4 linked regions of the Homo sapiens genome follow. The protein of the gene in region 3 interacts with the protein of the main gene of each other region in a pairwise test. Each region holds a gene or a part of one and is shown on either strand. Other genes may lie near its edges. The genes, in order: ANXA2, PANX1, WFDC2 and ARL13B.

Region 1 (7,249 bases), on a different chromosome or scaffold from region 3:
TTTGCCATGAACCTAAAACTTTCCTAAAAATGAAGACAATCGGCCGGGTGCGGTGGCTCACACCTGTAATCCCAGCACTGTGGGAGGCCGAGGCAGGCAGATCACGAGGTCAGGAGATAGAGACCAGCCTGGCCAACATGGTGAAACCCCATCTCTACTAAAAATACAAAAATTAGCTGGGCGTGGGGGCGGGCGCCTGTAATCCCAACTACTCGGGAGGCTGAGACAGGAGAATAGCTTGAAACCAGAAGGCAGAGGTAGCAGTGAGCCAAGATCACACCACTGCACTCCAGCCTGGGCAACAAGAGCAAAACTCCGTCTCAAAAAAAAAAAAAGACAATTTAGAATAGTCTTGCTCTGTAGCAGAACCGTCCAATACAGTAGCCACCAGCCTCATGTGGCTACAAAGCATCTGAAATGTGGTCAGTTCAAACTGAGATGTGCTATAAGTGTAAAGGACATTCTGAATTTTGAAGACATAGTATGAAAAAATTATATAAAATTTCTCATTTATAATTTCTTTCTTGGTAAAGGCAGGGTCTTGCTATGTTGCCCAGGCTGGTCTCGAACTCCTAGCCTCAAGTGATCCAAGCACTGAGATTACGGGCATAAACCACTGTGTCCAGCCCAATAATTTATATATTGATCATATATTACAATTACAACTATGATATGTTGAATATATCTTATTTCCATTTAATTTCCTTTTTCCTTTTTCCATTTTTTTTCCTTTTTTTTTTAATGTTTCAGTAGAGACAAGGTCCCACTGTGTTGCCCAGGCTGGTCTTGAATTCCTGGGCTCAAGCAATCCCTCCGCCTTAGCCTACCAAAGCACTGAGATTACAGGGGTTAGCCACCACACCTAGACCTTTTTTTTTTTTTTTTTTGTCTGAGACAGGGTTTCTCTCTCTGTTACCCAGGCTGGAGTGCAGTGGTGCAATCATAGCTCACTGCAGCCTTGATCTCCAGGACTCAAGAGATCCTCCTGCCTCAGCCTCCCAAGTAGCTGGGACTACAGGCGTGTGCCACTACACCTGGCTTTTTTTTTTCCAGTAGAGATAATGTCGCGTTACCTTGCCCAGGCTGACAGTCTTCTTGACAGAGCAAGAAATCTCTAACTTCAACATGGACCAAGAAACATTCTAGAGGGTCTCATCAGTATCCCTCAGCCCGAGAATTACCGAAGCAGAGGTGAAACTCCTAGGATGGACATCAAACCACCCAAGCCCTGGCCTTAACTATCACCCCTGGACTCAGTCAGAACTGGACCAGGTCTGCAGCAGGGGATAAACTGTTGTCATCTGCTGTGCAGAATTCTAGTCTCTACCATAAACAGGCAAGAAATAAAAAATGCCAAACGTAAAACAAAAGCAAAACCAGGGAACTAGCAAGTCAGAGTTGCAAACAGAGTTGTTTCCACTTAGAGAGTATAGATTAAATTCCACTTGTTTATGAAATCAGACACCTCACATTGGTTCCGATGTTTAGAAAATCTCAACTAGAGGCACGGTAACTTTTCATTGTGTTGTTCTTTCAAGTTGTCTTTCCAGCTCTGAGCTTTGTAGACTGCTGCCTACCCGTGTCCCACATGGGACTCCCCAGTACTGTGCAGATCAAAGACAATCTGATAGGCTTCTTTACACTCTCCATTCATGTTAATTCTTCTCCCACAGCCACAACACCTTGAGGAGACTGTTAAAAGCCCCACAAATCTTCCTTTCGGTTTCACCATTCATAACTGTGCTGCTCTTTCATCAAATCAGTCCTGCATGCCACCACCAACTAAATCTCCCCATTTAATCTTGTCAAAATCATTTGACATCATTCAAAATCAGTCCTCCAGCAGAGCCCAGCCTTCAAAGATGAGCATCAGAATCCTGTAAACAGTAAACAGTTCCCTCTGTTTACTCCTCAGCTACAGTTGACTAGGGCCAAAATGTGACTTGCCTCTCCGCACTCACCACTACTTCAGTATCTGCTCCAACAGGGTCACCACGACCCCTACTCTACAGAACTCTATCTTGCCTTTCACTGCCAGGGCACTTTTTGATACCACTTCATTCATCCATTCGGCAGAATGTTTTAAGTGCCCTACACGTGCCAAGTATTCAAATGGTGAATGCATAGGTACAATTCAAAGCAGTAGAAAGTATATGGTTGACCTCATCTTCCCTACATAGTCCCAGTCCCCCTACAGATTTCAGATTATCTTTACATAATGCAGGTGCTAAATCAACTTGAAAACAATGAGTTGCTATTTTGCATAACATTTATACTATGTATAACCATTTTGCAGAAAAAAAAAACAAAACACAAACATCACAATAACCACAAAGTCACACTTACCACAAAGCAGTATCTATGAAATTTGACATTATCCCATGCAGGTGCCTTTTGTATCCATATAAATATTTCCTACTTCATGTGAGTTTAATGGCAAACATTTTCACCCTAGAAATAAAATATGGCCACTTTCCTCCCATGCCGATAGCATTCCGGAAAACATGGTGAACATTCCTAAAACCCACTGGGCTTTCTGTAAGAAGTGTGGCAAGCACCAACCCCACAAAACGGCACAATACCAGGACTCCCTGTATGCCCAGGGAAAGCGGCGTTATGACAAGAAGCAGAGTGACTATGGTGGGTAGACTAAGGCAATTTTCTGGAAAACGGGTAAAATTACAAAGGAGGTTGTGCTGAGGCTTGAGTGTGCTGACCCCATCTGCAGATCTAAGAAAATGCTGGCTGTTAAGACATGCAAACATTTTCAACTGGGAGGAGATAACAAAAGAAAGGGCCAAGTGATCCAGTTCTAAGCATCATCTTTTGTTTTATTATGAGGACAATAAAATCTTGAGGTTATGTCCAAAAAACAAAACAAAATAAAAAGAAATAAAATACAGTGCTTGCTTCTTCACTCCATCAAATCCCCTAGCAATGCAAAGTCATTTTGCATATGATCTATTATTCGCTGGAAGGAACAGTTGGCTTTGCGATTCACTGTTTGTTAAAACATTAGTTTAATATAGCATATTTGACTAATGAGAATGTGTCAGTGTGCTGCTATCCTTGAAAGCAGGAAAAGGAAGTCTTGGCAGTGCTACTGTAGGTTACAAACACTGGTAATACGCAAGGAATTAATCAACGAACCCATACCAAGCATACGCTGAGCCTGCACTATATTAAAGGATACAAAAGACACTTATAAAACTGTGAAATGCAGACTTCCACCCTGCAGGACCTTTGAGCTCTCTTCCCTTCGTGCCTCTGTGACACACTGAGAGTCTAGTCCAGGGTCACCCAGTGAATTAAGTAGCTGAGGCAGGGCCAAAACCCAGATCCCCAGACTCCTGGGCCAATGCCCTTTCAACCTCACCACAATGGTTCTTTATTCCAAGTGATTAAGACACAGAGAGAAAGATCACAGCCATCAGAGCGGGATTAGTTAAGGGCTTAACAGGGAGGTGCTGTCTGCCTAGGCTGAGAAGGGTGAATCACCATGGGAGGTTCCAGCCAAGAAGCAAGGGGGAAGGCCTGGGGAGAGGGGAAGAGGAATAATGCCCCAGGGTGGCAGAAGAACAAGACTACAGGCTGGAAAATGAGCCACGTCCAGTGGGGTGCCCTGTGGGGAACCTAAAATATAAGTCTCTGAATGGTGCAAAGTTAAGCTTGCCTATGGAAATACTGGGGAACCTATGAGCCAAAATGATTGGGACTCAGTACTCATATTTATCTATTCACCAAAACATTTGCTCTGGAGGCAGAATTTTCTTACTGAAAACAACTACTCTGACTTCAGTGTACTTACTGTTTTGAATGAAAATAAAAAATAAAGCCTACATGCTGTATGAGACAATTTCACCTCTACTCACTCCTCATCACCGTATAAAACTCATAAATCCATTAAAAACAGAACCACTACTCCTTTTCTGGCAGACTTCTCTAAAGAACATGAAAATGGCAGTTTGCACCACTCTTTCCAACACTTCAACCTCACCCAGCTTGCCGACTGGTTTCAACTCTCCAACAAGAAAAAAAAAAAAAAATCAGCAAATTCAATCTGTTGATGAGTACATCTACATACACATCAGTGCCGTGCCTTCCATTCCCAGGGAGGGCAGGGTCACTAGACAACATCATTAAAATGACCCTTTATCAGAGAACGTTTTTCTGTTTAAGGAAATAAACTAGAGGTACAGGGAGACTCACTGATAAGAGCCATACCCACCTCAAACTGGTTTAAAATCATTCACTACTTGGGTAGGAAAACAGGTCACTTGGCCCCACCCTAATGAAAAGAACAGTTTCTTCTGCCTTGAAAAGGCTGATAAATGAGACTGTGAATGCCTGGCTAAAAAAGCTCACAGTGCAAGGCTGATCATTAATGAAATCAGTGCAGTTATTGAGAAACAAGTCATTTACATTTAACATAAGGACTATATTATTTAGGTTGGTGCAAAAATAACTGCCATTACTTTTAATGGCAAAAACCACAATTAACTTTTGTACCAACCTAATAATTTAAGGGTTTGTCCTTATTAAAAAAAAAAAAACTCTATAGATTTTATTGTATTCTATTGCTTCACTACGAAAGTGCAGTTACAAACAAAAAAAGGACAAGTGAAGCAGTTTTAACTTTACTCCCAAAAAGAAGAGTAAAAGTTTACAAAAAGGTTAAAACAAACAAACAAAAGAAAACTTAAAAGTCAACACTTCAAATAGTAAAAACACATTCTACTGAACTAAATTAAGAACCAGTTCCAAAAAGCCCAAATGTTAATCTGAACAAACAAAAACATACTGCAACAGGGCTGGTCTGCACAGGCAAATCTGAGTCTAATCCAGAAGTTTTGTGGACACACCCACTTCACAGTTTAAACGTGGAGTGTTGATGCGTTACCGCAAAACAGATTCTTAGCAACCATGGTGAATCAATCAGGGACTGGTGATTCAAATGAAGATTTTAAAGCAAAAATGGGTAGAGGTGGGAGTGTGGAGAGTTGGGTTCTCCATCAAAGCTCTTACTGTACACAGTCCTGGACACACAGTCTACAGGCCACACTGGAATTTTAAACTAAAAAAAAAAAAAAAAAAAAATGTACTGGGTGAGGAGAGGGGTTCCCACTGTACTCCATCCTCCACCCACCTACTGCATCTTTATTTATCAGAACCTTTTTGAAAGCAGATATTCTTCTCCTTGGTTTTATGGTCTTGATTAATGACTGAGTCACAGGGCCAACTCATTCCCCAGAATTCCTGGAATTCGGCCCAGTGACCTCGATCAAACTGAGCAGGAGGGACACACAGCACTTGCTCCAGCTTGTCTCTTCTGTGGCCTGATCTGAATCAATATTTGTTTGCTCCCTACTGACTTGTTGCAGCTTCATGCTCTCACAGCCTCTCTCTGCTGGTATCCTGATCTGGGGTTGGAGTGGGTGGAAAGAGACCGGCAGGAAGAATGATGTCACTTGGCATGAAGCACTTTCAGGGTTGGGAAATCCAGGCCTTCAAGTCTGCAACTCAATTTCAGTGTTTTATGGCCCACATATTGTATTTTCAACAGGGCCTGGCCGCCTACAGAAAAAAGTCTAATGTCAGCATTCAAGACCTTCCACACTGTGGACTTACCTACCTTTCCTTAAATATCTTCTATACACACACACATGCATACACGCATCCTGCACAGAAGAGTTAACTGGACTGTTAACTCTTCTCCAAACACGCTCAGCACTTTCTAAGTTCCCTCCACCAGGAACCTCAATCTTAATTAGCTGACATCTGAATGAGTCTTTAGGATACAGGAAATCATAAATGCCGCCTTTCTCACACACCCCTCCTTGCCCTGTGCTTCTGCAGCTTTTTGTGTGTCTGTGCAACATTAGAGTTACATGTGTAAAGTCTGTCTTCCGTATTATCCGCCCACAGGGTTTCCAACTTAACTCCCTCCTGTTTCCTCATAGGTCTGAGCACAGTGCCTGGCACACGATAGGCATTCAATTTCATCTTGGGATGGTTTACACACACTGGGTCTTTCTATATTAGAAAGTCTTTTTTTCTTCTTTTCCAACACACTCTCCTTCCTCAATTTTCTCTCTCCCTCAGACTGGACATTTCGAATGCAGTTCCAGTTCCGTGCATTCAGAGTTGGAGGCTTAAATCACCAACTTCTGCAAATCTTAGCAAAGCCCAGCAGGTCGCTTCAGGGCAGCCTCTTATCAACATATAGCCATGCCCCCCACCTCTGTGCTGTCAGGGATACTTGGACCCTAGCTCTGTCCATAGGACCACATGGGAACGTAACCTACAACTCCTAGCAAGAAGGCAGCAAAGAGGCAGGATGTACGAGTGGCCTTAGGACTCTGATTTCCTCTGAGCTGTGAGTGTATAGCCTGGGTGTGGCAGGGAGACAAAGGACATGGACAAAGGGCTCCATAACACAGTCACTCCCTAGAATAAGAAATTTCTACACCACACCTGGGGTAAAACTCAGGCCACTTGGGTGCTACCGACCTGTCCAGTTGAGCTCAGCTGGATTAAAAGCTTCAGGGTGGGCCAGGCATAGTGGCTCACGCCTGTAATCCCAGCAGTTTGGGAAGCCGAGACAGGCGGATCACTTGAGCTCAACAGTTCCAGACCAGCCTGGCCAACATGATGAAACCCTGTCTCTACTAAAAATACAAAGATTAGCCCGGCATGGTGGTAGGCACCTGTAATCCCAGCTACTCGGGAGGGTGAGGCTGGAGAATCACTTGAACCTGGGAGGCGGAGGCTACAGTGAGGAGAGATCGTGCGACTACACTCCAGGCTGGGTGACAGAGCCAGGCTCCATCTCAAAAGAAAAAAAAAAGAAAAAAAAAAACAGCTTCAGGGTGTACCCTAGAAGGGAGATTTGGAAGTCATCTGGTAGAACCACCCAGAAGGACAAATATGGGCATCTCCTGACCCCTACTGCTGACCTGTCCCTGGAGAAAGTAGATGAGGACTGCCTCTGGCAACAGCAGAAGAAAAAAGATACCAGGCAGTGAATGGGTGGAAAGAATTTTTTTGAAGGACTGGAATTTCCTCTGGTGTGGCCTACAACTAGAATAGGGTGTGGCACCAGGGCAAGTGAAGAGGATTCTCATGTGAAAAAAAAGAGGAACATTCCATTTCTATTTAATTCTCACAATTGAATCTGGAAGGCAGCTTAAGACACCATAATTTTAAGCAAAACTTCCCCGAGGTAGGTAAAATGTGAAGTTTAGGTCTG
Region 2 (7,249 bases), on a different chromosome or scaffold from region 3:
CCAGAATCTCTGGGACACATTCAAAGCAGTGTATAGAGGGAAATTTAGAGCACTAAATGCCCACAAGAGAAAGCAGGAAAGATCTAAAATTGACACGCTAACATCACAATTAAAAGAACTAGAGAAGCAAGAGCAAACACATTCAAAAGCAAGCAGAAGGCAAGAAATAACTAACATCAGGGCAGAACTGAAGGAAATAGAGACACAAAAAAACCCTTCAAACAACCAATAAATCCAGGAGCTGGTTTTCTGAAAAGATCAACAAAATTGATAGACCGCTAGCAAGACTAATAAAGAAAAGAGAGAAGAATCAAATAGACGCAATAAAAAATGATAAAGGGGATATCACCACTGATCCCACAGAAATACAAACTACCATCTGAGAATACTATAAACACCTCGAAGAAATGGATAAATTCCTCGACACATACACCCTCCCAAGACTAAAACCAGGAAGAAGTTGAATCTCTGAATAGACCAATAACAGGCTCTGAAATTGAGGCAAAAATTAATAGCTTACCAACCAAAAAAAGTCCAGGACCAGATGGATTCACAGCCGAATTCTACCAGAGGTACAAGGAGGAGCTGTTACCATTCCTTCTGAAACTATTCCAATCAATAGAAAAAGAGGGAATCCTCCCTAACTCATTTTATGAGGCCAGCATCATCCTGATACCAAAGCCTGGCAGAGACACAACAACAAAAAAAAAGAACTTTAGACCAATATCCCTGATGAACATCGACGCAAAAATCCTCAATAAAATACTGGCAAACCGAATCCAGCAGCACATCAAAAAGCTTATCCACCATGATCAAGTGGGCTTCAACCCTGGGATGCAAGGCTGGTTCAACATACGCAAATCAATAAATGTAATCCAGCATATAAACAGAACCAATGACAAAAACCGTATGATTATCTCAACAGATGCAGAAAAGGCCTTTGACAAAATTCAACAACCCTTCATGCTAGAAACTCTCAATAAATTACGTATTGATGGCACGTATCTCAAAATAATAAGAGCTATCTATGACAAACCCACAGCTGATATCATACTGAATGGGCAAAAACTGGAAGCATTCCCTTTGAAAACTGGCACAAGACAGGGATGCCCTCTCTCACCACTCCTATTCAACATAGTGTTGGAAGTTCTGGCCAGGGCAATCAGGCAGGAGAGGGAAATAAAGGGCATTCAATCAGGAAAAGAGGAAGTCAAATTGTCCCTGTTTGCAGATGACATGATTGTATATTTAGAAAACCCCATTGTCTCAGCCCAAAATCTCCTTAAGCTTATAAGCAACTTCAGCAAAGTCTCAGGATACAAAATCAATGTGCAAAAATCACAAGCATTCTTATACACCAATAACAGACAAACAGAGAGCCAAATCATGAGTGAACTCCCATTCACAATTGCTTCAAAGAGAATAAAATACCTAGGAATCCAACTTACAAGGGATGTGAAGGACCTCTTCAAGGAGAACTACAAACCACTGCTCAATGAAATTAAAGAGGACACAAACAAATGGAAGAACGTTCCATGCTCCTGGATAAGAAGAATCAATATCATGAAAATGGCCATACTGCCCAAGGTAATTTATAGATTCAATGCCATCCCCATCAAGCTACCAATGACTTTCTTCACAGAATTGGAAAAAACTACTTTAAAGTTCATATGGAACCAAAAAAGAGCCTGCATCGCCAAGTCAATCCTAAGCCAAAAGAACTAAGCTGGAGGCATCATGCTACCTGACTTCAAACTATACTACAAGGCTACTAGCAGTAACCAAAACAGCATGGTACTGCTACCAAAACAGAGATATAGATCAATGGAACAGAACAGAGCCCTCAGAAATAATGCCACATATCTACAACCATCTGATATTTGACAAACCTGACAAAAACAAGAAATGGGGAAAGGATTCCCTATTTAATAAATGGTACTGGGAAAACTGGCTAGCTATACATAGAAAGCTGAAGCTGGATCCCCCTTCCTTACACCTTATACAAAAATTAATTCAAGATGGATTAAAGACTTAAATCTTAGACCTAAAACCATAAAAACCCTAGAAGAAAACCTAGGCAATACCATTCAGGACATAGGCATGGGCAAGGACTTCATGTCTAAAACACCAAAAGCAATGGCAACAAAAGCCAAAATTGACAAATGGGATCTAAGTAAACTAAAGAGCTTCTTTCTGCACAGCAAAAGAAACTACCATCAGAGTGAACAGGCAACCTACAGAATGGGAGAAAATTTTCACAACCTACTCATCTGACAAAGGGCTAATATCCAGAATCTAAAATGAACTCAAACAAATTTACAAGAAAAAAACAAACAACCCCATCAAAAAGTGGGCGAAGGACATGAACAGACACTTCTCAAAAGAAGACATTTATGCAGCCAACAGACACATGAAAAAATGCTCATCATCAATGGCCATCAGAGAAATGCAAATCAAAACCACAATGAGATACCATCTCACACCAGTTAGAATGGCGATCATTAAAAAGTCAGGAAACAACAGGTGCGGGAGAGGAGGTGGAGGAATAGGAACACTTTTACACTGTTGGTGGGACTGTAAACTAGTTCAACCATTGTGGAAGTCAGTGTGGCGATTCCTCAGGGATCTAGAACTAGAAATACCATTTGACCCAGCCATCCCAGCCATCCCATTACTAGGTATATACCCAAAGGATTATAAATCATGCTGCTATAAAGACACATGTACATGTATGTTTATTGTGGCACTATTCACAATAGCAAAGACTTGGAACCAACCCAAATGTCCAACAATGATAGACTGGATTAAGAAAATGTGGCACATATACACCATGGAATACTATGCAGCCATAAAAAAGGATGAGTTCATGTCCTTTGTAGGGACATGGATGAAGCTGGAAACCATCATTCTCAGCAAAGTATCGCAAGGACAAAAAAACCAAACACCGCATGTTCTTGCTCATAGTTGGGAATTGAACAACGACAACACATGGACACAGGAAGGGGAACATCACACACTGGGGCTTGTTTTTGGGTGGGGGGAGTGGGGAGGGATAGCATTAGGAGGTATACCTAATGTTAAATGACGAGTTAATGGGTGCAGCACACCAACATGGCACAAGTATACATATGTAACAAACCTGCATGTTGTGCACATGTACCCTAAAACTTAAAGTATAATTAAAAAAAAGGAAAAAAAAAAACGAGAAAAATAATTTTTTTTAAAAAAAGATGAATGATAATCACACCCAGAAAATCCTCCAGAAAGGATTTATTTTTACTTCTGGCAGGCAAGTAGACCAGACACTCGTAATCCCCGATCTCTGTCATTCAACTGCTATTGCAATGATTTAAATCAGGACTCTTGTCCCTATGGGAGCTAGATTAATTCTGGATCGCCCCTTATTCTCAAGGAACAGCCTTTCAGAGTCCCAACCAAATGCCAAGGAGTGTTAATAAGGGTCCTTCCAACGTGGCAGGTCCTGACTTCAATTTCTGTCCCCAGCCTTGTGAATCTGGCAAGAGCTCTGCTGAGAAACTTAGATAAACCTCCATTCAAACAAGCAGTCTTCCACTGCCAGAAAGAGGGTTTCTTAATCTCTCATTAATACCAGGTAACTTAAGGTTTGGCTACCTATACTGTTTCCAGATTTCCCCTTCCTTGACTAGAAGAGCAATGGGCTAGAAGTCTGAAGATCTGAGCTCTGATGTGTTGGTCAGTAACTGGTCCTATAACCTTTAGGCTAGATCCCTCAAAGTTCCCTTACCCTTAAATGTAAAATACATCTGGATAAAAAATCTTTCAGTTTATTCTTGCTCTAAAATAATTACTAACACCCCTGCCAACTCTTAGACAATTCTCCTGCGGATCCATCAAAGGCAGCCCAGTGACTCATTAAAACTCTCTATTTTCATGAGAACACTATAACAAACGAACTTAAACTACAACAGTAAAAATTTGGATTTACAAAGCAAGCTGTTAAACTTTAGAACTGTGGTCATTCACACTGCAAGTCCTATTATTTGTTGCCTTGGCTACTAAACCATGCAAAGCTGACGAGAACCCACCTATGGCTGAAAATAAAGAGAAAAGCCCAACCTAAAAGGAGAAAAGAGTCACTATAGGGCACCACTATGCAAAATGGCAAGCAGTACAGTTGACGCTTGAACAACATGAATTTGAACTACATGGGCCCACTTTTATGGGGCTTTTCTTCTGCCTCTACCGCTCCTGATACAGCATGAACAACCTCTCCTCTTCCTCCTCCTCCTGAGCTACTCAACATAAAGACAACGAGGATGAAGACCTTTATGATGTTCCACTTCCACTTAATAAATATTAGGTTGGAGCAAAAGTAATTGCGCGTTTTGCCATTACTTTTATATATTTATTTTATTATTATTATTTTTTGGAGTCTCACTCTGTTGCCCATGCTGGAGTGCAGTGGTGTGATCTCTGCTCTCTTCAACCTCTACCTCCCGCATTCAAGTGATTCTCCTGCCTCAGCCTCCCGAGTAACTGAGACTACAGGCATGCACCAGCATGCCTGGCTTTTTTTTTTTTTTTTTGAGATGGAGTTCCACTCTTGTTCCCCAGGCTGGAGTGCAATGGCACGATGTCAGCTCACTGCAACTTCCACCTCCTGGGCTCAAGCGATTCTCCTGCCTTAGCCTCCCGAGTAGCTGGGATTACAGGCACCCGTACCACACCCAGCTAATTTTTGTATTTTTAGTGGAGATGGGGTTTCACCATGTTGGCCAGGCTGGTCTCGAACTCCTGACCTCAAGTGATCCGCTTGCCTCGGCCTCCCAAAGTGCTGGGATTACAGGCATGAGCCACCGCACCCAGCCACGCCTGGTTAATTTTTGTATTTTTAGTAGAGACGGGGTTTTACCATGTTGGCCAGGCTGGTCTCAAACTCCTGACTTCAGGTGATCCGCCCACCTCACCCACCTTGCAATTACTTTTAATGGCAAAACCCACAATTACGTTTGCACAAACTGAATAGTAAATATATTTTCTTTTCCTTATAATATTCTTAATAACATTTTCTGTTCTCTAGCTTATTGTAAGAATACAGTATATAATACATATAGCATATAAAATATGTGTTAATTGACTGTTTATGTTATTGGTAAGGCTTCCAGTCAACAGTAGGCTATCAGTAGTTAAGTTTTGGGGAAGTCAAATGTTACACACAAATTTTTGACTGTGCAGGGGACCAGTGCCCCGACCCCCACATTGTTCAAGGGTCAACTATAAACAAACATGCCTGAGTCATAGCTCCCTTAAATCATTCCTTTTACGAAGAAGGATGCTGATGGTGTGTCTGGAAGCAGGTCAAAGCAGAAGAGAGTCAAACTTTGGCTTTTGGGTTTTCGAAAGCTAAAATTCTATATTTTCTTCAGCAGAAAAGAATACCAGAAGATACACATTCTAATTGTTTTCACAATGGACAAAAGAAACAGTGGTTGAAATTAATGACAGGCTGAAACAAAGTCCTACTTTCAGAAGCACAGAGAAGACCTAATGCAGTCACTTCATAACTCAGAGAACATTCTTCTGCACAAACTTATCAACTGCTGCCTAAGTTCCTCACTGCATCCCCTGCCACCTGCATGCACAAACCACCACTTCCCTGACTACAGAATGTACCTCTTCTCTATGGGAAGTGGAGTGGAACCCAGACATTGGTGTCTCTTGTGTAGTATCTCCCCTTCCCTGCAGTATCTGGATCTATCAAAAAGCAAAGGGATCCATTCCAAAAACAGTGCTACAGCCAACACCCCCAGAGGGCCTCATCACTAGGCTTTTTGATGTTCCAGTAACGTATCAGCTAGAAGCAACTGAACTCTAGGTCAGTCCTTACTTTCTGCAAGAGACCCTGTGTGTGGTAGAAAAGGTGCTAGCTGAGAAGCTATGCATGAATCCTAGCTCTGCCACTGTCTAGCTATGCTCATTCAGACACTCAAAATGTACTAAGAACCTACTACGGGCCAGACATCCTGCTGGGCATTATGATATAAAGGTGTCAAGACACAAAAGGTGCCTGCTGTTATAGAGCTAAAACTCAAAGAACACTTCCCATTGCCCCATTGTGCTAAATGATGGTGCCTACACCAAGTCATCTCTGAGGTTCTTTTTGACTATAAGGTGCTACAGTTTTACAATCTGAGATACAGCACTGGTTGGCTACAATATCTGTGTGGTCTTTGGCATAGCCTCCCTGGGCTTTAGTTTCCTTATCTATAAAGCAAACAGGTTCTATTTGGAAATGTCTCCCTTTACCTTATGCAGCCACAGTGGGAGGTTTCCAGACTCGCTCTGCAGTGAGTTCTTCTGCTGAACAGCCGCCCAGCAATATGAATCCACAAAGGCAGCCTGACGCCAGGAGAAAGAACTTGGAGAGAAACAGCTTATCTGTGTACCTAAGAAGCAAAACAGATAGTTTCCAATGAAAACACAGCTTACCTGGACTCTTGTCCCCATCTCACATGTTTTTAGTTTTGTCTAAGTTAGGGAGCACCAGGACAGGAGGTGGAGACATTAGGACAGAACTAAAAACAAACACCCAAGTTCATATTAAAACAAAAGATCACAGAGTGGTTTTGGCCAACACTGGTCATGATAGCAGCTTGGCCTCAGTTGGGGAAAAATTCTTAAAAGAAGTAGAACTACCATACAAAGAAAAAGGAAGCAGGAAAAGAACCAGAGCCCAGAATTCAAGAGGCAAGCGTGGAGAGACCTGGTTTAGTTTGGAGTAAGGATTGAGAAAAAGGAAAGGTTATGTGGGAGGGTCAGTGAGGCACCTGAATGCGGAAAATTGGACTAAAAAAACAAGTTCTTTTAGAACAAAGAAGCAAAGAACTATTAGCCTGAGGAAGAGAAAGCTGAAGGGAACATTGGTAATAGAACACTGGATGGGAAATCAGTGGTTTCCTACCTCCTGTAACACTAAAGAAGAAACAGGCTGAAACTGCAGCCCAACTGGTTTACATTTGGAAGGGAAACGCTCACGACTGCAAACCTCCCAACAGCAGATGGGCGGTAGATGGGGAATGGGAAGACCTGGGTCCTGGTGGGGCTCTACCGTTCACTCGCTCTTCTGGGAAGGGACTCTGGGACTTGGTTTTCTCCTCTGCAAACTGAAGATTACATCTCTCTGCAGATGCTACCGTCACATCTGTAAAACCTACCATCTGGAAGACTCTTTGTGCTCCTGACACACACAGGCCATGGAGGGAAACTG
Region 3 (7,787 bases):
CACCAGTTAGAATGGAGATCCTTAAAAAGTCAGGAAACAACAGATGCTGGAGAGGATGTGGAGAAATAGGAATGCTTTTACACTGTTCGTGGGAGTGTAAATTAGTTCAACCATTGTGGAAGAGAGTGTGGCCATTCCTCAAGGATCTAGAACAAGAAATACCATTTGACCCAGCAATCCCATTACTGGGTATATACCCAAAGGATTATAAATCATTCTACAATAAAGACACATGCACACATAGGTTTATTGCAGCACTGTTCACAATAGCAAAGACTTGGAACCAACGCAAATGCCCAAGACACATGCACACATAGGTTTATTGCAGCACTGTTCACAATAGCAAAGACTTGGAACCAACCCAAATGCCCATCAGTGATGGACTGGATAAAGGAAATGTGGCACGTCTACACCATGGAATACTATGCAGCCATAACAAATGATGAGTTCATGTCCTTTGCAGAGACATGGATGAAGCTGGAAACCATCATTCTCAGCAAACTAACACAAGAACAGAAAACCAAATACCGCATGTTCTCACTCATAAGTAGGAGTTGAACAATGAGAACACATGGACACAGGGAGGGGAACATCACACACCAGGGCCTGTCGGGGGGTTGGGAATTAGGGGAGGCATAGCATTAGGAGAAACACCTAATGTAGATGACGGGTTGATGGGTGAAGCAAACCACCATGGCACATGTATACCTATGTAACAAACCTGCACGTTCTGCACGTGTACCCCAGAACTTAAAGCATAAATACAAAAAAAAATGTTGTTAAGTTGCCAACAGTCTTGACTTCCTAATACAAAGAAATTCATTCTCTTGAAAGGAGTAGGAACCTGTAATATTGGGCTGCCCTGGAAATAAATAGGGAACCATTTATGATCAAAACAAGCCACTGTGTATGGAGTATCTTCTCACTAATAGACACTTTAGATGCATTATTTCATTTAGTCCTCATGCCAATCCTATAGAGTTTGGAATTATTCCCATCTTAGAGCAGAGGCTCAGAGAGGTAAACAACATGCTCAGGATCACATAACTAGAAAATGGCAGAACTAGGATTCAAACCTCCAGGCTGCCTCCCTGGCTCAGGAGGCCATCTGACCTTGTCCCTCTTCCTGCCTCAGTCTGTCCATCTGAGATAAGGGAACAAATTCTTCATCCATCAAACAGCAAAGACTCCCTCCTTTGCTCCTCCACCTCTCTCATCTGGCTGCTGCCTGCTTTCTCTCCAAATCTTCCTCTCTCCTTCTGGTCCTCCTCTCCCTGGCCCAGAGGAGGGGACTCATGACCTTGAAGCTGCCCTTGGTGGGCTGCCAGTCCCCCTCCACTTACCACCTCCCTGCTGATCGGTGTCTTGGGTCACCGTATTACAAACCTTCCCAGCCTGTGCTGGCATCTTCAAGGAAATAACAGAGAGGAAAAGTCACAGGGGCTGTATTCTGGATAAAGAACATCATTACAGTACCTTGGTTCTCTCCAGGTCCTATCCCTGCCTCTAATCCTCAGCATTTTCCTCTGGAGAACGGAAAGCTGAGATTCCATGCTGTTTAAGCCACCCCCTGTTCTGATAGCCTGGTGGAGACTGCAGCTCCAGCAAGCACCTTTGAGAGAGTCCCCAGCTCGCGCTCACTCAATCCTTAGAGTGGAAGAGATTGACTGAAAGACGACGAAGGGCGATACAGTGTCCAGGGAGGATTCCTCACTTTCTTCGAATCACTCAGCCAGTTGGCCTGAAAGGCAAAAGCTGAACCCTCACTATGACTCCAGCAGCCATGGGATGGCGGTGTGACCTTGGGCAAGAACATTTTTTTCTCACCGATGCTCCCTTACACATCTTTAAGATGAGCGGGGCATTTTCCTAAATCTGTAAAGTTCCTTTCCGCCTGGACAGAGGAATTGGGGAAAATCTTGCCAGGCCAGGCTCTCCCAGTCTTTCCCCAGGGCTGGGGGAGGCCCCCAGGGAGGGACTCCAAGAGGAGAGGTGAGCGCCCCAGGCTCCGGGCTTTCCCGCAGGGCAGGCTTCGGCCGGTTCGAGAAGGAAACTGCGGCCCCGGGTCCCCAGGCCGCGGGGAACAATGTCCCGGCTGTGCGTGCCCGGAAGCCCGTCATGCACCAGAGACTCGAATCCCAGCTAGGGGTGGGGACCCCCCCTTGGCTGCGTTTCAACGACGCCTTTGTCTACCCCTGGGCCGTGCGAGGGAGAGGACTGACGGATCTGGTTTCAACCGCCTTGACTTTCCCGGGGGTCCCCGGGTCCGGGGGCGCCCCTGTTCCCGGAACCCGGGCCCTCCCACCTCCTCCCAGCCCAGCGCGGCCCCGCCCCGTTCCCGCTCGGCCGCCGTGGGGTTACCATTGGGCAGAGAGCAGAAGGTGGCACAGCCCGCGCTGCAGCACTTGAGGTTGTCGGCGCATTCGCTGTCCGAGACGCACTCTTGCGTGCAGTTCTGGTCAGCCTGGAGCTCGGGGCACACGCCAGTCTTCTCTGCTCCTGTGCCTGGGAGGGGAGGCCCGGGACAGTCGAGGGTGGGGCGTAGCGCCAGCCCCAGAGGATGCCCACCTCCTGCTCCAAACCTTAACCCCAAGGAATTCTCAGTCTCTGGCCCTAGGAGTCCCCTTACAGCCCCCAGAGACTCCTTCTTCCAGACCAGGAGTCCCTGACCCCTGGGAGTACGAGAGCTCCCTAACCCTTGGCGTCGGGGCCCTCAGATCTCAGCCCTAGGGGACGCCGCACAGCTGAGCGTCTCGGAGCTTCCGAGGTCGAGGCAGAGCAGCCCCCACCCCCAGCCCACTGCAGCCACGGAGTGTCCGCGTTCAGCACAGAATCCTCCCAAATTGCAGCCATCAGTGGTCTCTCCACCTCCAGCACATTGGACCCCACACCCTAGGCTCCAAGGGTCCCCGCCACTTCCGCCCCCGGAATTCCCACTTCCCCAGCCTCCAGAGGCTACGCCTCCGCCTGGCTCCATCCTGGCGCTCGTGGCTCGGCCCCTCTAGGCGCCGGGCCTCTCCCCGCCCCACTCACCTGAGACTAGGGTGAAGCCGAACAGCAGCAGGCTGAGGAGGAGGGCGGCGGCTAGCGGGCCTAGGCGACAAGCAGGCATGGTGCTATGCCCGGGCGGGGTGCAGGTGTGAGCCGATGCTCAGGTGCGGGGATTTAACCGCGCGCGCGGGAGGGGGCGTGGGGTAGGGGTGGAGCCGAGCGGGGAAGGGGAGGGTGGAGGGCTTTGCGGGCACCGCGGGCGGGCTGCCACATGAGGTCATTTCACAATCCCCCAGGATCAGGTATCACTCTTGGCCCCGGTGGGAACCAGGAACTTAAGCAGCTTCCAGGACGGGACCAGCTACGGCCGGACCCTTGTCCACGCCTCCCTCCTGACCTCCCTCCTGGGGCCTGAGGGCCAAGGCTCAGGGCTCCTGGGTTTCTATTCCAAGACTCCGAGGTTTCTCCAGAGTGTCCCCAGTGGGCGGTTGAGGAGGATAAGGCAGGGCCCGCAGGGAGGCAGTAGAGCATGCGGGTTAAAGGGTTCGATTTGGGGTCAGCCAGATGAGAGGGCAGATCCCTCTTGATGGAGGGCTAGGGTAGTGATACAGAGCACATAGTAGGGGCTACAGAAATAGCACTTATTATTAATAAACAAACCCTCCTCATCAGAAACAGGCCCAGGAAGGTGAAGCACCTAGCAGTCTCAAGCCGTTTGGGTGTGTGTTTCTGTCTCCCTCTCTTTGTCCTACCGGCCCCTGATCAGGGCTGACTGTGCCAGGCTCTGTGCTCCTTGTCTCAAGGAATTGTCGCCGGTCCTCTGACCGGGGAGTTACTGTTATCAGCTGTATATGACAAAGGAACTGAGTGTTTAGGGATTTAGGACCGCACCTCCACCACAAGGTCCCCTGCAAAGCTGTACAAATAAGGTTTTGAACCCAGGTCTCTCCCTCCAGGCCCTTGTTTTTTCCATTCCGTCGTAAATATTCACTGGGTGCCTACTGTGTGACATATGCAGGGCAAGACGCTTGGTGAAGAGAAAGTCGTCAAAAGGGGCCCTCCAGCACTGGTCTTGAAGGGGTGACAGGGTCTGGGGTCTGACTCCCACCTCCACCACTTCCCACCTGAGGGCCCTGGAATGAATCCTTTCCTGGATCTGAGCTGCCACATCATCAGTGAAAATGACACCTATATGGGACTTCAGTGAGAACACAAATGCAACGTTCCTGCCACGGAACAACCATGTACTCACTGGGAGCATTGAGAGTAGATCCACACTGATTGACACAGGGACTCCAGGCCTGACCCATGATAGGTACTGGATACATGGCCATGAGTGCTCCACAGATAAGTGTCTCCTGTGACGAAGGAGACCAATAAGTATAAATGAAGCTTTAGAATCCAGGGGGTTAAGTGCCAAAACAGAGTTACCCAGGGAGTTAGACAAGAAGTGCTTCCTGCTCCAATGATCTGAGGTTCTAGAAGCCCCAGGAGGTCTTTGCTGCTGGAGGCTAGAGGGGCCCTGGGGCAGTGAACACTGGGATGATAGTGACAGGTGAGTAGGGTTTGGTGATGTGAGTACATCTGGCCACTGTCCCCAAAATGGATGCTGAGAACACCTCCCCCAGCTTCTCATGCTCAACTTGGGGACTGGGGACGTTATTGGGAGGGGCCAGGGCTATTTACTCTGAGCTCAGTCAACAATGAGGGCAGGAGCCAGGTGGGAACACAGCCCATAACAGGCTAGTGAAACCCAGTCTAGGGCACAAAGAGAACACTGGGGTGAGCAGCCAGTTTTTAGCCCGTGGACCCAGCTGGCTACTGTACATTCAGCCCCAGGCACTGCTGCCAACAGCTTTCTTCCGGGCCCTATTCAGCTCCCTGGGCCAGGAAACTGCCCAGCCTTGCTCCTCCCAGGCCCTTATGAGCACCCTATTGATTGGCTCTCTCTTACAGGAATACAGACTGAGGGAGAGTGGCAGGGCCAGGCAGAAGGATGGGGAAGGAATTTTCATCAGTCAATGGCATCAGATGTTTAGCTTTTGTGGTGCCAAGTTCCGTGCTAGGTATAGTTATAGATATTCTCTTTACATCATTTAAAAGGGCAGAGGCTTTAGAACCAAATGCATCCATGCCCAATCAGGGACAATGCATCCATGGCCACTTTCTGGCTATGTGACTTAGAGAAACACTTCATGTTTTGGGCCTGCATCTTCTTCCTGCATAAACTGTGTATCATCCTAACAGTCTTGGATGATTATTATAAGGGTTTTATAAGATTATTATAAGGGTTAAAGGAAAAAGCATAAATCAGAGGTTGCAAATCTGGCTAGAGCACATACATTATTAACTACACAGTATGTTTTAAATTTTTAAATTAGTTGCCAAGATTTAAAAGTAGCGAATTTCATATAAAAATAAACCTCTAGCTTCTCTTGGAAAAAGTAAAAGATCTGGCAACACAGTCCTGCAATCTTAGATATAACAACCATCAGCTAGAGCAGCAGGTCTCAAAATTGAGCATGCGTCAGAATCATTTTTTTTGTTGTTTTTGTTTTTTTGAGACTGAGTTTTGCTCTGTCCCCCAGGCTTCCCTCCCCTCCCCTCCCCTCCCATCTCCTCCCCTTCCCTTCCCTTCCCCTGCCTCCTGGGTTCAAGCGATTCTCCTGCCTCAGTCTCCCAAGTAGCTGCGATTACAGGCGCCACTACACCCGGCTAATTTTTGTATTTTTAGTAGGGACGGGGTTTCACCATGTTGGCCAGGTTGGTCTCGAACTCCTGACCTCAGGTGATCTGCCCGCCTTGGCCTCTCAAAGTGCTGGGATTACAGGTGTGAGCCACAGTGCCCAGCCTAAGCATGCATCAGAATCACTTGGAAGGCTTATTAAAATACAGATTGCAGGATCCCCATCCCCAGAGTTTTGATTAGTAGGTCTGGAACCTGAGAATTTGCATTTCTAACAGGTTTCCAGGTGATGCCAATGCTGCAGGGCTAGGGACCATACTTTGAAAACCAGAACCTAAGTACAGCTACTCTTTTTCTATGAGGGAAGCATTCCCTCCAGTTTCCCATAATCCCCACCACCACCATCCTCCCTCTCTGCAACTAGTTCCATTCACAGTGCTCACCTGACCCCAGGAGGACATTTAAATTTGTGACCTCTGGAGTGGGCACATAGTAAGTGTTTGGTGAAAGATAGCTTATATGTATTTAGCAATCTTATGGATTAAGTATTATTACTCCCATTTTACACGTTAAGAAACTGAGATTCAGCTAAGCAAAGTGACTTGCTGGAGGAAACACAGCCAGTAAATCAGAGGGAAGACTCTTGCCAAATTACTTGTGTTGTCCCAGTTATTTCAATATTATACACATTCACACAGATCTATCTGAGGTTAACGTAGATGATGCATCCAAAGTTTTGGACTTGACTTCATGAGTGTAAAAAAATATATATCAGGGAAGAGGAGGAAGAAAAGAAGCAGAAAGGAAAGAAGGAAAAGTTTATAGTGGTAGATGATGTCAATTAGCTGTAGACATGCCCACTCTAAAATGACTGTAAACAAGTTAACGGTGAAGATTTAAGAAGTTTCCAGGAACAAAAAAGGTGCCTTTAACCATGCAATGGGCCTCTCCTTTTAGACTTTTGGACTCAGTCAAACTTCCTTTCATTCCATGGAAACCTCTCTCTTTGGATATATTGACTATTTTGTTTTGTCACCTAGCATTCATTTGTCCTTTTTCTGATAAATCACCCTGAGTTTGCTTTGGAGGAAATAACTTCCTCCAGACCAAGACAGGTGGGGCCAGGGAGACTGTCAATTAATGTGTCTGCCCTACCCCCAGGCAGAGTGGCCAATCAAATACTGTTCCTAGAACTGTAATCTTGAGCAATGAATGATAAAAGACCTGAAAATTTATGGAGCTAACTCAGAGGTGTCCTGGGAAGAACTCAGTTCTGACTTTACCATTCTTTCCAAGCTGTGTTCTTTTAGCCTTTCCTTCAGTTCTGAGAGCTAAACTGAATCAATTAGTGCTATTGGGTGCAAGCAGTAAAATTCAACTCTGGCTAACTTAGAGATATTATTAGGAAAGGAGAATGGATGCCGACTACATCCCATTTTTATAAATTTCTTCTCTGTTTACAACAGCCAGAGTTGGTTTCTGTTGCTAGTAACCAAAGAGATCTTACTCCCTATACCAGTGTAACCACCAAGTTCCTCATTTCCAAATCCAGTGGACTTCTCTCAGCTCTCATTCTCTTCTAACTCACAGTTAAGATCCTTGTGGCATACATGCAATAATGTTCAAACCAAATCCTCATTAAAAAAAAAAAATACACATGGTCTCTGCACAAAAACCCATGAAAAGCAGAGCTTGTCTATTTGAAGTGGCTCAGGTCCAGCCCTAAACCAAATAATCTTCCTAGAACAGTGCACTTGTCGAGTTAATTCCTTGACTGTAAATTCTACTGGATCTTCACTGCCTTCAGGATAAAGGCTGAACTCCTTAGCCTGCCTTTTTGACTGATACCAACTTTTATTTCCAGCTACATTACTTACTTCATGCTGCACAAACCTTCCCTGGGCTCATTGTCTCATCAAACATTCCTTGATCAAGCTCACCCCAAGAGTCTTCTTTATCAACAGCTGAGACTTGAATGATGTGTAACATCTATCTACAACATCATCTGGGGCTGAGCATTACCAAAAAAGGTTAAAGCAAGTCCAAAGATCCTAAGGCAGGAAGAAGCCTGATGAATGCCAAGAAGAGTAAGAGAACCAGTATAGCTGGA
Region 4 (7,249 bases), on a different chromosome or scaffold from region 3:
AGGTGGATCACTTGAGGTCAGGAATTTGAGACCAGCCTGGCCCACATGGTGAAACTCCATCTCTACTAAAAATACAAAAAAAATTAGCCAGGCTTGGTGGCGCCCACCTGCAATCCCAGCTACTCAGAAGGCTGAGACAGGAGAATCACTTGAACCCAGGAGGTGGAGGTTGCCGTGAGCTGAGATCGTGCCATTGCACTCCAGCCTGGGCGACAGAGGGAGACTTCGTCTCAAACAAAACAAAACAAAACAAAACAAAAAAAAGAGATACTCAAACTGTATTATCAAATAATTAATGATGTAACCTTTCCAGAAGTTGAAAGTGAGCCGCTTACTCCTAATATTATAGTCATCCCTGGGTCTTTGATTACTAGAAAGGCTGAGATACAAAGGACTCTGTAGTATTATAAGATTTACAGTATGTTATACTAGTAATAAGTAACATAAGAGGTATTATGGGTACTCTGAAATGTAGCCACAAATTTGGTGTTAGAGACCTGAGTTCAAGTGCCAGATTTGCCATTTCTAAGCTATATGGCACATTACTTTTCAGAATTTCATGAATGAAATAGGATAATAACAATAGCTACTCTAAAGGGATATAATGAAAATTAAATAAGGTTTCAATGAGCTGGGATCATGCCACTGCAGTCTAGCCTGGGTTGACAGCATGAGGCTGTTTAAAAAAAAAAAAAAAAATTAACCATAGCATTTTTCTGCTTAAAATCCTTATAGAGAATCAAGTCTCAATTTGGCAGCCCCCACTTCTGCCACTCCCAGGAAGCCTGCCATGCCGAGGATTCCTTCCATGCCGAGTACTCCTTCAGCCCTTCACAACCATCCCCGGCTACTTTTTATACAGGCTCCTCTACCAGAACTTCTCTTTATCAGCTCTGTAGTGCCTGTATCAAATGTGTTGGGCACACAGTAGGCTTCTTTACTGAAAGAAACAACAAACATTTTCTGAACCCCATTTGCTGAGTAAATACTAAGTAAAATTAAAATACATAACTTTAGATTGAGAAAGTACTATAATGAAGCTAATTTATATAAATCTTCACATCAAAATAGTTCATATTAAAGAATGTAATTATATCCATATATATCAAATTGGCTGAAGTTTTCTGAAAAAGCTTACATGCTCATGGTTTCAAGGTACTAATTAACAGAAAGACTTTCAAAACTGAAATAGGGGTCTCAGCAGCTCGGGCAGCGGGAGGAGTGCCAGTAGCCAGGCAGCCCAGCTTCGCGAAGGCTCTCAGCTCCGTGGCCCACAGGTGCCCAGCAAGTGCCCCTCCTGCCGCCAAGATGCCCAAGAGGAAGGTCAGTTCAGCCGAAGGGGTGGCGAAGCAAGAGCCCAAGAGGAGATCTGCGCACTTGTCAGCTAAACCTGCTCCTGCAAAAGTGGAAATGAAGCCAAAGAGGCATCAGGAAAGGCTAAATCTTCAGATTAAAAAAAAAAAAAAAATGCAAACAAATGGGAAAAGGGGAGCATAGGGAAAACAGGCCAAAGTGGCTAACCAAGAAACTAAATAAGATTTACCTGCAGAAAACGAAGAAACTAAAACCGAGGAGACTCCAACCTTTGATGAAGCAGGAGAGAAAGAAGCCAAGTCTGATTAATATCATATACCATGTCTTATCAGTAGTCCCTGTCTCCCTTCTTGTACAATCCAGGGTATTTTTATCAACTGCTTTGTAAGTGCAAGTCTTTTAGTAGCTCTAGAAACATTTTAAGTAGCAGGAACTCCCACCTCATTCCATTGTTAAGTTTTTTCTGAGGTGAAATAATTCTCTGGTTGTTTATTTTTTGGTGAAACCAGAGAATAGTATGGGATATTGAATTACAGGAAGTTTTGACTGTCTTGGATGTCAGCTTAACATTCCACAGATGGGGGCTTAGTTTTTATATACTGTAATACAAAATATACTAAATGGCAATACAGAGTCAGAATCCTGCATTTAATGTCTTGAACATTTTAAATTACTTCTATTGCCATGTTTTTTTTTTTTTTTCACAGAATTGTTTCCTAAAGAAAACCACTCCTTGATCATGGCTCTCCCTGTCAGAACTGTGTACACTATAACATCTTTGGTCACAGAAGTCCTGATTTCCTAATAACTGTGTTAATGTGCTGTGAAAGATTGAAAATTTGGGTATATAGTGTACATGCTATTAAACTGTGAATTGGTAGAACGTGTACAGCTTATCAAACACTTGTAGATACTGGCTCTTGATAATCCTCTTAAGAAAAATTTGCCTCCAAATGTTAAGTTGGAATGTCACTATAATAACTATTTAAAAAAGAGGCCGGGTGCAGTGGTTCACACCTATAATCACAGCACTTTGGGTGGCCAAGGTGGGAGAATTACTTGAGCCCAGGAGATTGAGACATGCCTGGTCAACATGGTGAGACCTTGTCTCTACAAATTAAAAAAAAAAATTAGCCAGGCATCGTGGCATGCACCTCCCAGTTACTTGGGAGGCTGAAGTGGGAGGATCGGTTGAGCCCGGGCAGTCAAGGCTGCAGTGAGCCGTGATCACTCCTCTGCACTCCAGCCTAGGCAATAGAGAGAGACCGTTTCAGAAAAAGGAATTACAATAGAGGTTTTCTAGATTTTTGGTATGTATGTTAAGAATTGTGTACAATTTGAAATGTCTGTATACTTATTCTCAACACGACAAATAAAATCTCCATTACAAAAGAAAAAACTGAAATAATTCTTAGTAAAAACAAAAAAAAATCAAAGGTAGAGATTAAGGGATCCAAAGGTCTGTTTTACATCACTTTAGCTATCTGCCGAAACAAGTGAAGACTTCCATACTCCAGAAGCTAATAATTAATATTGTTCAAGTCAACACAATGTATATAATAGATCTCCTAAGTGAGAATATGAGAATATCTTATCTCAGAATTCCTTTTTATATAACGGATATACAAATTAATATATCAGAAATACTGGTCAGGCACAATGGCTTATGCCTGTAATCCCAGTACTTTGGGAGGCCAAGACAGGAGGACTGTTTGAGCCCAGGAGTTTGAGACCAACCTGGGCAATATGGTGAGATCCTGTCTCTATTTAAAAAAAAAAAAAATCAGAAATATAAGCATCATGGCATTAGGGAGGATTGAACTTAGAAAACATTTAAATTCTGAATCTTTCCTGAATGACATTATCACAATCATTTGAACACCTACAAGTCTAAACTTCCTCATCTTTTAACTAAGGAAGACAATACTTTCAATATGATAATTAGATAAAAGCTATTCCTTTTTTTTTAGAGACGGAGTCTCATTCTGTCACCCAGGCTGGAGTGTGCAGTGGCGAGATCTCCACTCACTGCAACCTCTGCCTCCTGGGTGCAAGCAATTCTCCTGCCTCAGCCTCCCAAGTAGCTGGGATTACAGGAGTCTGCCACCATGCCTGGCTAATTTTTTGTATTTTTAGTAGAGACAGGGTTTCACTATGTTGGCCAGGCTCATCTCGAACTCCTGACCTCAACTGATCCATCCACCACGGCCACCCAAAGTGCAGGGATTACAGGTGCGAGCCATCATGCCTGGCCCATAAAAGCTGTTTCTAACTTCAAAAATATTATGCAAGTCAAAGAAAACATTTCGCTAAAAACACTAAAATCAAAGTTTGACACATCGGAACTCTATTATCTACAGTATTTAAAACTACATGAAGCAAATTCTAAATTTTAACATAAACATAAATTCTAAAAGTAACAAATACATATACAAAAAAAGACTTTAGAACAAGGTTTTATGATACATATGTGAGAATTTTAAAAAATCACTATACGACAAATTGATAGAAAGAAAAAAATGTATCGAAAAAACAGTGTGATTTTATTGCAGTACACTATTTTCTGACATTTCAATTCAGATCTAGAACCCCATATTACAGCAAAATCATTATCTAAATTTACTGAGTATGAATAAATAGTGAGAAGGCCAAGCTTGGGTTTATAGCCTGCTTTTAAGCCCTGATCAAGTCAAATTCTTAGTGTCCATTTTTTCATCTCTAAAATATAAGGGGGTAAAATAAGAATGTCTCTAGGTCCTTTTCTATATTAAAATTCTAAAATTCTTACTATGCATAATCAAGAAGAACTAGGGGGATAAAAAGAGATGTAAAATATTCCAGTTCAGCATACAGCACAATAGATAATCCTTGCTAATCTGTACATACAGCTTAATTGGAAAATTAAGAACTCAGCAATTTCTATAAATGGTCTAGATTTACAGTTATATTTATTTAGGCCAAGAATGATGGTATTAGGGAGCTAAGTATTCCCTCAGTGAAAAAGTTCATAGCAAAGAGGACAAAACAGACCACTAGAAACATTGTGTACTGTATCTTATTTTAGACTTGGCCACAGCAAACAATTTACTAATAAATTTGAAGTAAAGCTTTGATAGGTTGTATTTGTGATGCTGAAAAAACACAGATGGACAAGAAATCAGTTCCAATTAAAGGTTAACTCTGTGGAAGAATGGTGGGAGATGAATAGGGGGCAGGAAGTTTCAAGGATTTGTTACCTACTTATTAAAATAAAATTGAAATATGATGACTAAAGATTAATATTTATAAAACCTGGCAGGCATATGGTACTTATTATATCTTTCTTTTTGGTTAAATAACAGTAAAAACATTTTTGTTAGTTATGTATGCATAATATATAAGAAGTTATATAACATGTATATTTTCATATAAACAAAGAATTTTGTTGCCAAAATTTGTATGCAAAATTTGTTGCATGAATTTCTTCAAGACCCAGGTAAAATTACACCCCTTCTAAAATCCTCTTTCCTGATTCTCATTAAAAATCTTAAAAATCATATTTCAACTCTTGCATATTCGATCATTATATTTTACATGCACTATTTCATCACCTAGATGCTATGTTATAAATAACAGGAGCTCAAAATCTGTAGATGAGAATGTGTAAGGGTTAGAATCTGCTATAAGGCCCAGAGATTTACTGAGCATCATAGCTTCACAGACCTTGTGTCCTGTACTCAGGATGAAGGCTGCTCCCTATAAGCTAAATAGATTGCAATAGATTAACAGTTTTTAATGTTAAAAATGAAAATATAAAACTACAAGAAAAAAGTATATGTGAATGTAATCTTGTAATGCTGATGAACTTTCTAAACATTACACTGAAACAGTAATATATTTGAATTTAAAATTTTTATTTAGTCTTATTGATTGATTGATTGATTGATTGATTGAGACAGGGTTTCACTTTGTCACCCAGGCTAGGCTGCAGTGGGGCAACCTGGGCTTACTGCAGCCTCCACCTCTTGGGCTCAAGCGATCCTCCTGCCTCAGCCCCCCAAGTAGCTCGGACTACAGGCACATGCCACTACTTCTGGCTAATTTTTTAAAACATTTTTGTACGGATGGGGTCTCACTATATTGCCCAGGCTGATCTCAAACTCCTAGGCTCAAGCGATCTTCCCAAGTGCTAGGATTACAGGTGTGAGCCACCACACCCAGCCTGAATTCAAACATTTTAAATGTTTATATTTAAAAAGCACAAAAAGTTGAAAATATAACAAATGGAAAGAAAATACTTGCAATATTATACAACTGATCCTTGAACAACACACGTTTGAACTGCACAGTTCTACTTACACACAAATTTGTTTTTAATGAAAGTTACACGTGTGCCTTCCTCTCCTGCCTCCTCTGCCTCCCCAGCCTCCATTTCCACCTCTTCTGCCTCTGAAACCTTCCTGAGACAGTAAGACCAACCCCTCTTCCTCTTTCTCCTCAGCCTACTCAATGGGAAGAAGATGAGGATGGAGACTTTTATGATGATCCACTTCCACTTAATAAATAGTCAATGTATTTTTTTCTTCTTTTTAATTTTTTTTTTTTTAGACAAGAGTCTTGCTCTGTCGCCCAGGCTGGAGTGCAGTGGCATGATCTCAGCTCACTGCAACCTCTGTCTCCCAGGTTCAAGTGATTCTCCTGCCTCAGCCTCCCAAGTAGCTGGTATTGCAGGTGCCCACCACCACACCCAGCTAATTTCTGTATTTTTAGTAGAGACAGGGTTTCGCCATGTTGGCCAGGCTGGTCTTGAACTTTTGACCTCAAGTGATCTGCCCACCTCAGCCTCCCAAAGTGCTGGGACTACAGGCGTGAGCCACCGTGCTCCGCCCCTTATGACTTTCTTAACATTTCCTTTCCTCTAACTTTAAGAATACAATAAATTATACATATAACATAAAAAATATGTGGTAACTGACTATTCATGTTATCAGTAAGGCTTCTAGTCAACAGGAGGCTATTAGTAATTAAGTTTTTTGGAAGTCAAAAGTTATATGTGGATTTCTGTCTGTGCTGGCAAGGCAGGGTTCAGTGCTCCTAAACCCTGCGTTGTTCAAGTGTCAATTGTACTACAGAGAAACAGTAGCTACGACAAACACTTAAAATTTCTTTTTAAAAATTCATTAAGAAAACACACCTGCCCCAATAGAAAAAACACAACAGTAATCAATGGACAACTGCTGAGAGAAACAAAAATGCGCAAGGAAAAAAAGTTAATCTTCCTAGTAATAAAAACAAAACAAAACAAAAAAAACCCCAGAAACTCAAAGCAGAAAGCAGGTTCCCCTATAATGTGAAGGAGATGAAAAACCGATGACTCTTGATTTTCTCAGTGAAAAAGGCACTCCAACGTACTGTTGGTAGGAGTAGAAACTGTGTTTTCTCTTTTTTAATCCTTTCTGAGGAGCAATTTGGTAACATATTTTTAAAAGATAAACTTAGGAACAATAAAATTTCAAGAGTTTATTTCCACATTCATTGATTCATGAATGGAGCCGTACCAAACTGAACCAAAATTCATGAATGGGGCCATACCAAACCCCAAATAAGTGGGGTTCAGTACTCCACTAAGGGGGATGAAGCGTTAAACTTTTATAAGATCTTGACTGCTGACCTAGACTGGTGCCTTAACACTTGATCTCTGACTCCTGCCTTGTCCTTATCACACAAATCTAATCCCTGATTCCAATGTCTGGAATAATATGCTCACTAGGAAAGGATCTAAGTGAGGAGAGGTGAACAAATACAATGGGTACTGGGGTACAGAATGTATTAAACAAATCTGCAAAGTAATCTCAAATATAGTATATTAATAACCATCATCATCTCTTTTACAAATTCACTCCTCACATTTCATCTTCATAAAATATAAACATGAAGAGGAATCTTAATAAGAAAT

What was found.
Region 1: the proteins of WFDC2 (region 3) and ANXA2 interact in binary tests that used the Homo sapiens proteins (3 or more experiments, as listed by UniProt).
Region 2: the proteins of WFDC2 (region 3) and PANX1 interact in binary tests that used the Homo sapiens proteins (3 or more experiments, as listed by UniProt).
Region 4: the proteins of WFDC2 (region 3) and ARL13B interact in binary tests that used the Homo sapiens proteins (3 or more experiments, as listed by UniProt).

What each region holds. Positions count from the first base shown.
Region 1 is NC_000015.10:60,387,867-60,395,115, forward strand, and holds part of ANXA2 (annexin A2), read right to left. Parts: exon of another isoform or gene 6,511-7,249; intron 5,575-6,510; exon of another isoform or gene 2,347-5,574; intron 1-2,346. UniProt on the Homo sapiens protein: Calcium-regulated membrane-binding protein whose affinity for calcium is greatly enhanced by anionic phospholipids. It binds two calcium ions with high affinity. May be involved in heat-stress response.
Region 2 is NC_000011.10:94,152,670-94,159,918, reverse strand, and holds part of PANX1 (pannexin-1), read right to left. Parts: intron 6,429-7,249; coding exon 6,289-6,428; intron 1-6,288. UniProt on the Homo sapiens protein: Ion channel involved in a variety of physiological functions such as blood pressure regulation, apoptotic cell clearance and oogenesis.
Region 3 is NC_000020.11:45,465,107-45,472,893, reverse strand, and holds the start of WFDC2 (WAP four-disulfide core domain protein 2 precursor), read right to left. Parts: upstream 3,142-7,787; 5' UTR 3,113-3,141; coding exon 3,034-3,112; intron 2,506-3,033; coding exon 2,362-2,505; intron 1-2,361.
Region 4 is NC_000003.12:93,983,006-93,990,254, reverse strand, and holds part of ARL13B (ADP-ribosylation factor-like protein 13B), read right to left. Parts: intron 2,310-7,249; exon of another isoform or gene 1,193-2,309; intron 1-1,192. UniProt on the Homo sapiens protein: Cilium-specific protein required to control the microtubule-based, ciliary axoneme structure. May act by maintaining the association between IFT subcomplexes A and B. Binds GTP but is not able to hydrolyze fit; the GTPase activity remains unclear.